Regions from separate parts of the Homo sapiens genome. Here region 1 is linked to region 2. A link means that fine-mapping ties the variant in region 2 to the expression of a gene that starts in the linked region. Tissue or cell type: whole blood. Region 2 holds a variant in brackets; the other region holds the start of a gene. All regions are shown on one strand. Distances are from middle to middle.

What was found. PIP is the estimated chance that this variant, and not a neighbour inherited with it, causes the effect.
Region 1: TMEM120B starts here. The variant in region 2 is fine-mapped to the expression of TMEM120B in whole blood (TOPMed, PIP above 0.99).

The regions. Positions count from the first base shown.
Region 1 is chr12:121,710,308-121,715,451 of GRCh38, reverse strand. It overlaps TMEM120B (transmembrane protein 120B), which reads right to left and starts at 2,700. Exons shown (of 12, transcript NM_001080825.2): 1 at 2,488-2,700. The coding sequence starts at 2,556. RefSeq lists silencers at 2,229-2,358, 2,539-2,588, 2,599-2,858.
Region 2 is chr12:121,773,069-121,778,209 of GRCh38, reverse strand. It overlaps TMEM120B (transmembrane protein 120B), which reads right to left. Exons shown (of 12, transcript NM_001080825.2): 9 at 4,697-4,789; 10 at 3,488-3,552; 11 at 3,080-3,148; 12 at 1-2,601. The coding sequence ends at 2,488. RHOF (ras homolog family member F, filopodia associated) reads left to right here. Exons shown (of 5, transcript NM_019034.3): 5 at 1-456. Among named protein-coding and RNA genes, the nearest start is that of RHOF, 18 kb to the left of the region's middle. RefSeq lists silencers at 2,933-3,227, 4,879-4,928. The variant AGACGCG/G (reference allele first, on the strand shown) is at 1,948.

The DNA of each region.
Region 1 (5,144 bases), 63 kb after region 2:
AGAGTCAAACAACTCCTTTGCAACCTCTGCCTGCCAAGACTTGCTATCTAATTGCTGTTAATTGCATTAATTGCACAGCTCTTAAGTGTTGTTGCTGTTTTTTGTTTTGTTTTGTTTTTGAGACGGAGTCTTGCTCTGTTGCCCAGGCTGGAGTGCAATGGCACAGTCTTGTCTCACTGCAACCTCCCCCTCCCAGTTTCAAGCAATTCCTGCCTCAGCCACTCGAGGATCTGGGATTATAGGTACATGCCACCACACCCAGCTAATTTTGCATTTTTAGTAGAGACAGGGTCTCACTGTGTTGGCCAGGCTGGTCTCAAACTCCAAACCTTGTGATCCACCCGCCTCGGTCTCCCAAAGTTCTGGAATTACAGGCATGAGCCGCCGCGCTGGGCCTCACTCTGAAGTGTTAAGACTCTTCCCCCTCCTCCTCCTTGTCTAAGGCAAAGCAAGGGACAGGAATTATGAACAACACAAGCTTCACACAGCAAACCTCTTCTCTTCTCCCATTCCCAACCCTAACACCCACTTGGTTCCACAGCTGACCATGACCTCCGAGCCCAGTAAGACAAAGCATTAAGAAGTGGCTGAGGACCAGGCACGGTGGCTCACTACTGTAATCCCAGCACTTTGGGAGGCCGAGGCAGGCAGATCACGAGGTCAAGAGATTGAGACCATCCTGGCCAACATGGTGAAACCCTGTCTCTACTAAAAATACAAAAATTAGCTGGGCATGGTGGCGCGCACCTATAATCTCTGCTACTTGGGAGACTGAGGCAGGAGAATCGCTTGAATCCGGGAGGCGGAGGTTGCAGTGAGCCACGATCGTGCCACTGCACTCAAGTCTGGTGACAGAGCAAGACTCTATCTCAAAAAAAAAAAAAAAAAAAAAAAGAAGTGGCTGAGGGCCAGGCACAGTGGCTCATGCCTGTAATCTCAGCACTTTGGGAGGCCGAGGTGGGTGAATCACCTGAGGTCAGAAGCCTGGCCAACATAGTGAAACCCTATCTCTACTAAAACACAAAAAAATTAGCCGGGCACGGTGGCGCACACCCGTAATTCCAGCTACTCAGGAGGCTGAGGCAGAGAATGGCTCGAACCCGGGAGGCGGAGGCTGTAGTAAGCCGAGATCACGCCACTGCACTCCAGCCTGGGCGACAGTGAGACTCTGTCACAAAAACAAAACAAAACAAAACAAAACAAGAAGTGGCTGAGTCTTCTCCGTGGGAGTGGAGCCAAAACAGTCCCCTGAGAACCGGATGGGACCCAGGCCCTAGAAGAGAAGGCATCAACCTACACATGCTGGACAGGTCGAGATGTGTCTAGGTCCCTTCCCCTCTATTCATGCCTGAAAGGGCACCCCCATTCCTGCCCCGGCTCTCCAGCAACCCTCTGTCTATTGATCAGAATCTACAACCACGTGTCTAGAAAGACCCATCAGAGACACCCTTGGCAACCTCCTCTCCCCTCTGCACACTGTAGGAGGCCAACTGAACTGCAGACAAGAGGTACATGGACAGGGACAATGTCACTGCTCCAAATGAGAGGACTGGGGTGATAGTGTGCAATGTAATTTCAGGCAAAGCCAACCCCCCGAAAAACAATCCCGTGACTGGAGAGGGAACAGCCCTGTCTTCAAAAATAGTCACCGAGTCCCTCTTGGTCAACCCCAAGGTTTCCTGAGGCGTCTCTAGTCAACACGGTAGGTAGCTGGGGCCTCTCTGAACCTCTTAGCAGGAACAACTGCTGCCAGGACCGCTCCCCACACCCAGCAGCAATGCCATTCTCTCAGGGGACCCCCGCCTTACACCCGCCCTCACTCCACCCCGTGTAAGGCTCCGGGCCAGAAGGATAGAGCTGGGAGTTTCCCCTATCACTGGGTGAGGCTACTCAGCTGTCCGAACTGACAGATGCTCTCCACGCCAAAATCAGCCTGCAGCAGCGTCAGAGCCCCCAAAGACAGGAAATAGGGGTCCCTAATCCCCAAGCACAACCTAGAGGTTCAAGGTGAACAGCTCTTAAGTACACCTCCCAAAACAGAGCTGCAGGATAGTGCTGCCCCGCCAGAGCACGGGGTGGGAGCTGAGCTACCAAAAGCAGATGGGAGGGGGCGGGGTGAGATCTGGGGAGACCCTGCAGAGGTGGGGGCTGGGCTGTTCTCTTTGAACCACCCCCACAGATGAACACGCCTGGAACTTGCCTCAGAGGCCACAGACCAACTTTCTGCAGCGAAGGGGGTGCGTGGAGCAGAGAGCCAGTGGGAGGGCGGCGGAAGAGGGGGCTGCGACCCGGCGCCCCACGTGGACGAAGAGCTGAAGCGCCGGGTGATGGGAGGGGGCTGGTCCATGCCTCCCGTCCGCCCCCAGGGCCTCTCCGGGGCACTCCCTAGGCCCTGACTGTCCCCACCGCCCGGGCCGGGGGGCTCAGGAAGGGCAAGGCGCTGCACCGCGGGCAGCAGAGTTGCGGGACCAGGTGGCCTGGCCCTACCTGCAGTTCTTGAAATTCTCCCTCCAGCTCGTGCCATTCGCGCTCGCAACGCTCCAGCTGCCCGGACATGATGCGATGGTGCAAGGCGGCGGTGCCGGCGGCTGCTCCCGCAGCGCTGCCCGACCGGCCCCCCAGCGCCCCACGCCCGCGCGCTCGCCGACCGCCCTCGGAGGCACCAGCTGTTCCTGCGCAGCCAGAGCCACGCGCGCAACTGACGTCACGGCCCCGCCCCGGCGCCCGCCCCGCCCCACGCCTGGGAGGCGGGGCCGCGCGTGCGCATGTGCCCCGCCCCGCCCCGCGTGCGGCGTTCCGGACCGGGACATGGCAGGCTCGCAAGGTCTTTCGGGGTCTGTTGCGGCCCCCTTGGCAGTGCCTCTGCGCCTCCAGAATCTGTCTCTTCCAGGAAGAGTTGGGGGACTTGTCTGCAGGTTGCATTTGCAGAGATTATTTGACTTAGATTGTGTGTTTTGGGGGTGTCTAGAGTTTGGGGAAAGGAGATTTGGGGGAGGTGAAATGAAAGCTCACCGGCCCCTGGTCATTGCCTGACTTGAGCCCAGGCCAGCGCCCCGGAAGGCTGGCGCTGACATCGACCATCCAAAAAGGTCGGGGGCCGGGCGGCGCAGCGCAGAGAGGGCACGGTCATTTCACGTTGTCATTATTATGTGCTGCAGCTAATACATCCTAGATTCCTGCCCTCTAACGCTCTGGGTGACGTTCTTAACAGCTGTTTCTGTCGCTCAAGGGACAACCGCCTCCAAGCTGATTAAATCCAGTTCTGTCCCCTCCTCTGCCAAGTCCTGCAAGAACTGCCCCTGCCTAGCTTTCCAGTCCCTTCTATCTCACCGCCCTGGACTCGTACCCTCCAGCCATTGCTTTTTCTCTTCCTGACCTTGCATGGAACTTTCTTCCCTCTAAATCTTCATACGATGTGCCTTTTTTTCATCATTCAGGCCTCAGTTTCAAATGACACCTGTGTTACTTTACTTTTTTATCTTTCTTTTTTCTTCTATTTTTATGGGTGTTTTTTTTTTTTTCTGTCGCCTAGGCTGGAGTGCAGTGGTGTGATCTCAGCTCACTGCAACTTCCGCCTCCCGGAATCAAGTGCGTCTCATACCTCAGCCTCTGGAGTAGCCAGGTTATACCACATCCAGCTAATTTTTGTATTTTTAGTAGAGGCGGGGTTTTGCAGTGTTGGCCAGGCTGCTCTCGAACTCCTGACCTTAAGTAATCCGCCCGACTTGGCCTCCCAAAGTGCTAGGATTACAGGCATGAGCCACCGTGCCCGGCCCCCTGTGTTCGTTGCTAAAGCTGCCATAACCACAACCTGGGTAGTTTAAACAATAGAAATGTATTCTCACCAACGGGGGCAACATAAGGAGACCTTGTTTCTACAAAAAATTTACAGATTAGCTGGGTGTGGTGGCACGCGCCTGTGGTCCCAGCTACTCCGGAGGCTGAGGTCCAAGAATTCCTTGGGCCTGGGAGGTCAAGGCTGCAGTAAGCTATGATTGCACCACTGCACCCCAGCCTGGGTAACAGAGCGAGACCCAGTCTCATAAAGAAAGAAGGAGGCCGGGCGCGGTCGCTCACGCTTGTAATCCCAGCACTTTGGGAGGCTGAGGCAGGAGGATCACCTGAGGTTGGGAGTTCAAGACCAGCCTGACCAACATGGAGAAACCCCATCTCTACTAAAAACACACAAAAAAATTAGCCAGGTGTGGTGGCACATGCCTGTAATCCAGTTACTCAGGAGGCTGATGCAGGAGAATCACTTGAACCAGGGAGGTGGAGGTTGTGGTGAGCTGAGATCGTGCCATTGCACTCCAACCTAGGCAACAAGAGTGAAACTGAGTCTCAAAAAAAAGAGAGAGAGAGGAAGGAAGGGAGGGAAGGAAGGAAAGAAAAAAAGAAAAGAAAGAAATGTATTGTCTCACAGTTCTGGCATCTAGAAATCTGAGAGGAAGGTGTCAGCAAAGCAGTGCTCCCTCTGAAGCTCTGGGCAGAATCCTTCCCTCCTCATAGCTTGTGGGTGTATGTGGTGGCGGGGGGCTCCTTCACTGGCGTTCCTTAGCTCGCAGCTGCATCACCCCAATCTCTACCCTGTTGCACCGTCTTCTTTCCTGTGTGCATGTCTGTGTGTGTCCTCTCTTAAAAAGACACCCTTTCTGGCCAGGCATGGTGGCTCACGCCTGTAATCCCAGCACTTTGGGAGGCCGAGGTGGGCAGATCACTAGAGGCCAGGAGTTGGAGACCAGCCTGGCCAACATAGTGAGACCCCATTTCTACTAAAAATACAAAAATTAGCCGGGCATTATGGTACAAGCCTGTATTCCCAGCTCCTTGGGAGGCTGAGATGGGAGGATCACTTGAGCTCCAGAGGTCGAGGCTGTAGTGTGTTGGGAAAAGCTGAGTGTTGGGAGAAGCTGAGGCAGGGCTTGTATGTCTGACACAATGTAAAAGAGTCTTGGAACATGTCCAGGGTCCAAGGTCTAAAACCCCTTGTGGCCTTTGGAACACCAAGCTCTGTGCTAAAGGGTGGAAGGCTGCCCTGATGCACCATAATCTAAGCCCAGGGCATAAAACCCCTCGTGGCTTGGATAGAATCCAGGGCTCGTGGCTCTGGAATGTGTCTAGACTTGCTGGCTCCTTGCTCCTTG
Region 2 (5,141 bases):
AAGTGCTGGGATTACAGGCGTGAGCCACCGTGCCCGGCCCAGGACTTTTAAAACAAGCATCCCAGGGGATTCCGGTGCCTACCAGAAGTCGCAAGCTGCTTGGCTCTGGAGGGCGCCTAGGAGTCGGTGTCGCCTAAGATGGGATAATGGCTTCAGGCAACTCCTAGCCTTCCCCATATCTCCTGCCTCAGCCCCCCTGGCCCAGTGCTGGGGCGTCAGCTAAACCTGAGCTTCCAAGAAGTCAGGTTGCCAAAGGAAGGAGCCTTCTGAGACCCTCCCCAACCCACCCAGGTTCCCAAGGCCCTGCCGTACCCTGGGGAATCAACCAAGGAGTTCTTGTTCTCGAAGAACCCCAGGCCTCATGATGGTCTACGGTAGAGGTCCAACAACTACAGCCTGTGGGCCACATCTGGCCACAGCCTGATTTGTAAATAAAGTTTTATTGGAACACAGCAACACCCATTCCTTTCTGCATTGCCTTGTGCTCTGGGGCTGCAGGTGAAGAGTAGCTGCCACAAACCACCTGGCCCATAAAGCTCAAAATAGTTGCCATCTGGCCCTTTACAGACAGCTAGCTGACTCCTAATCTAGGGCAAACGCAGGTGCCTAAAAAGGACCAGAAAGGAGACCAGAATGAAGGGCAGGGGGGTGGCAGGGCCTGTGGCAACTGGAGAGTAGGCGTCCTGTGCCACGGGAATGTTGCCAGGTCCGTTTTTCTAGGGAAAGCAGAAATCTGGATTTTTATGTGGAATCTCACTGTAGGGGTGGGGAAATCTCATTTTAAAAATGTAATCAGGCCAGGCACAGTGGCTCACACCTGTAATCCCAGCGCTTTGGGAGGCCAAGATAGGAGGATGAGTTGAGCCCATGAGTTGGAGACCAGCCTGGGCAACATAGTGAGACCCCATCTCTACTAAAAAGTATTAAAAAGTAGCAGGGTGACCAGGCATGGTGGCTCACACCTGTAATCCCAGCACTTTGGGAGGCTGAGGCAGGCAGATCACAAGGTCAAGAGATCGAGACTATCCTGGCAAACATGGTGAAACCCTGTCTCTACTAAAAATACAAAACAAAACAAAACAAAACAAAAGCCAGGCATGGTGGCACGCGCCTGTAGTCCCAGTTACTCGGGAGGCTGAGGCAGGAGAATCACTTGAACCTGGGAGGCAGAGGTTGCAGTGAGCTGAGATTGTGTCACTGCACTCCAGCCTGGGTAACAGATCGAGACTCCCATCTCAAAAAAAAAAAAAAAAAAGGAGCAGGGCATGGTGGTGTGTGATTGTGGTCCCAGCTACTCCAGAGGCTGAGGTGGGAGGATCCCTTGAGCCCTGGAGGCGGAGGCTACAGTGACCTATGATGCCACTGCACTCCCGCCTAGGCAACAGACCCTGTCTCAAAAAAAAAAAAAGTAATTAAAAATTTTAAAATTCCTTGAGGAGGGCTAAACAAGGCATGCCTGTGGGCACTGCTGTGAGGTCTGGCCTAGGGATTTGTAGGGCCACAGTTAGGGGGAGCTGAGGCCCATATATGAATGGTGGGGCAGAGCACTCAGCCAAACCTGGTGGCCTCTCTGCCTCCCGTCGAATGCAGAATCTCACCCAAGCGATGCCCAGTGGCTCTGACCCCGCCTCAGGGTGCGGCCCCTGGGGGTGAGCCTGCCAGGCACCCCCACCTCCCTCCCACAACATCCAGAAGCTCTGGGAAGGAGGGGGGAGGTGGTTCCCCTCCACAGGGGCCAAGGGTCTTGGTCCCACTCTCCAAGTACCTGCCACGACACTGCAGGAAGGTGGGCTGCAGGATGGGGGGGTCAGGGAACCCCGAAGCACAGACGGGAACGTCCTTGTCCCCTTGGACGACCCAGGGCCCGGGGCGCCCTCTGGTGGCGAATCTTCTCACAGCCTGACTCAGGATGCCCCCAGCGCTCCAGGGGCAAGAAGAGCACGAGGC[AGACGCG/G]GTGGGTCTCTGAGAACTTAAAATAACCCTCACCACGTGGCGGGGTGGGCGAGGAGGGGGCTCACAGCAGAAGCAGAGTGGCCCCGGGGTGGGGGCGCCACAGGACACTGAGGGTTCACACCACCCCAGCCTGGGCCTGGTAAGTAGCAGGTCAGCATAAATCCAACCCCGCGAGGCACATCCAAACCCCACCCAGAGGGGTTCAAATGACAGGAGTGGGAACAGAGGGGCTCCCTGAGGCTTCAGGCCCCATCCCCAGGAAGACTGGCCCGGCCTCAGCCACCTTCAAGCACAGGAGTGAGGCCTCGGGTTCCAGGGACGATGGGGGACCCAGCATTAAATATGTCATAAATAGGTGGGCGGACACTGTGCGGACAGGCGGGGCTCACATTCCTCTAGACCACTGGGGTCCACTGGGGGACCAGGGCCTGGGCCCTCTCCCAGCGATGCCACGGGCCTGAGAGGGCTGCTGGGAAGGAGCCCGGGAGCCCCCTGCAGTCTGAAGTCCGGGCCGAGGGCACAGGAGCCCGAGGCTCACGGCTGCTTTGTCTTGCCTCTGTTCTTCTGGAGCTTGGCATGCACGACTTTGAGCGTGGTCAGGAAGTTGCCGAGGAAGAGGATGAGGAAGGTGAACGCCAGTACGAACACCTGGGGGAGTCCAGAGAGGAGGGCGAGGCTGGGGCATCTGCCCTGCTGAACCCCTGCCCCCAGCACCCCAGAATCTCCAGCACAGCTGCCCCCAAACTCCCAAACTGCAGGGTTTTGCCATCGAAGGCAGAGATTCAGGAGACCTGGGGGAAGGGTGAGGCCTCAGGCTTGGGCAGGGCCTGGGAAGGGCTCGATGGGGCGAACCTCCTTGGGATCCACAGATTGGGAGAGGCTCCACCCCTAGCCCTTCCAGAAGCCTCCCGCCAAGCAGGCCCCCCACAACACCCCACACCTGCCAGCCCAGCCCGCCCCAGGAACCTCCCCACAGCACACCACACACACGCACACACCCCACCCCCACATCTGCCATCCCAGCCCTCCCCAGGAATCCGCACCCCAGCATGCCACACATACACCCCATCCCTGCCACCCCAGCCCTCCCGGGAACCTCCCCCGAGCATGCCCCCACCCCCCATACCTGCCATTCTCTGCATTCCTCGTGGCTGGAGAGCTCAAACAGCGTGACGGCATTGTAGAGCTGCCAGAACTGGAGAGGAAGGCAGGCGCTGCTCACCCACCAGACTCCCCTGGCCGGCCACGTAGAAAGCCAGGGTGATGGCCAGGCCCCTCACCCAACTTTGGGTATCAACTACCCACAACACTGACAGACACCCCCAAAATGAAATGCAGGCACCCGAGGCCAGGGCAGAGCTAGGTCAGTTCTGGCTCCTGCCTTGGCATCCCTGGGCCCAGAGGCTGCCCCGGCCCCAGGATGCTGTGGGCCCCAGCATGGGGACGGATGGAGAAGGAGGGCAAGGCCTGAAGACCTTCTGTTCCTGGGGGTCAGCCCAGACAGGAGATACCCACAAACTCCAGGGGGACTCACATGGCCACAGAAGAGGAAGGGCAGGAGAAAGGTGAGGCCCCGCCACATCCAGGACTGGAACCCTTCTGTGGAGAGGAGGGAAGAAAAAGGACCCGCTGAGGGGGTCCGCTGCCCCCACAGCTCCACCAGACGCCCACCCCCAGCCACACCAGTCACCCTAAGATGAGCCAGGGACAGTCACACATGCGGGGGGTCAGCCCTCACCTGTCATAGCTGGGTGGGCATTCACTATGACAATAGCAACCCTGTCACCTGGCCTGACTGCTCTCTCTCTTCAAGCCACCAAGAGCCAGGTGACAACACACAGACACTGGGCGCTATGTTGTTACTAATTTCTTTAATCTGCACAGGGTTTTGCATTTTATAATGAATTTTCACATGCATTAGTTCTATCGAGTCTTGAGACAGGAGGACCTACTTAGGAGAGTAATTTGATGGAAATGACTATGTCAAAAGACAGCAGAGTTGGCCAGGTGCAGTGGCCCACGCCTATAATCCCAGCACGTTGGGAGGCCAAGGTGGGCAGATCACTTGAGGCCAGCAGTTTGAGACCAGCCTGGCCAACAAGGTGAAACCCCATTTCTACTAAAAATACAAAAATTAGCCGGGCGTGGTGGCACATGCCTGTAATCCCAGCTACTCAGGAGGCTGAGGCGGGAGAATCACTTGAACCCGGGAGGCGGAGGTTGCAGTGAATAGAGATCGTGCCACTGCAATGCAGCCTGGGCAAGAGTGAGACTCCGTCTCAAAAAAAAAAAAAAAAAAAAAAAAGATAGCAGAGTTGTATTAAAAACAGTTTCCCCTGAAATTCTCAATGAGGTGTCTCCTCACTTTTCTGGCTGGCACTCCTATGGCTTCAGAGTGAGGCATGTCTCCCCCGTGTACATGCATTTATATACTTATACGTGTTGGTATGTAGACATGTTACACACAAATGGCTAATTTGTGTGTGTGTATTCTAGAACACACACAAAAAAATAGACACTTCCAGAGGCTGAGACAGAGGCCCTGCCCTCGGGGCCTGGTATGCAGCTGGCCTGGCACTTGGCAGCTGAAACAGAATCCAGGATGAATTCTGGAAGGCGCTTCGGATAAAGGGCAGCGGCCTGGCTCCGCTGTATGGGAGGTGCTCGCAGGGCTGCACTCCCGGTGTGGGGAGCTGGCAGGTCCAGTACCTGCCCCGGCTCCAACCCAGGCCCAGCTACTCACCCACTGTGAGATCCAGGTGGTTCCTCTCCCCCAGGGCCCGCAGCCGGTAGAGGCAGCCCCTCTGGTAATAATATTGCAGGAACTGGACGCAGCCTGCAGGGGGAGCACAGCACCTGGGCTCAGGGCCTGGTGTCCCCGGAAGACAGGGCCACACCTCTCTGCCCCAAGCACAGGCTGATGGGTCTTTACTGGGCAGAAGCAGAAAGGGTGCCCTGGTTACAACCCTCTCCCACGCCCACACACCACAAACAGACACACACACTCTGGTCTGAACCTGCTTTAGCCCTTATCCAGAACACAGAGAGAACACAGGTATGTGAGGACCCATCTAAGCCCCAACTAGATTTGAAACTTCTGGAATTTTCCATGCAGTAGACACTCAATAGATGCTTGCTGGAATGCAAGCTATGCCAGTGCTATGTTGGGAGCTCTGTGCAATGCTAAG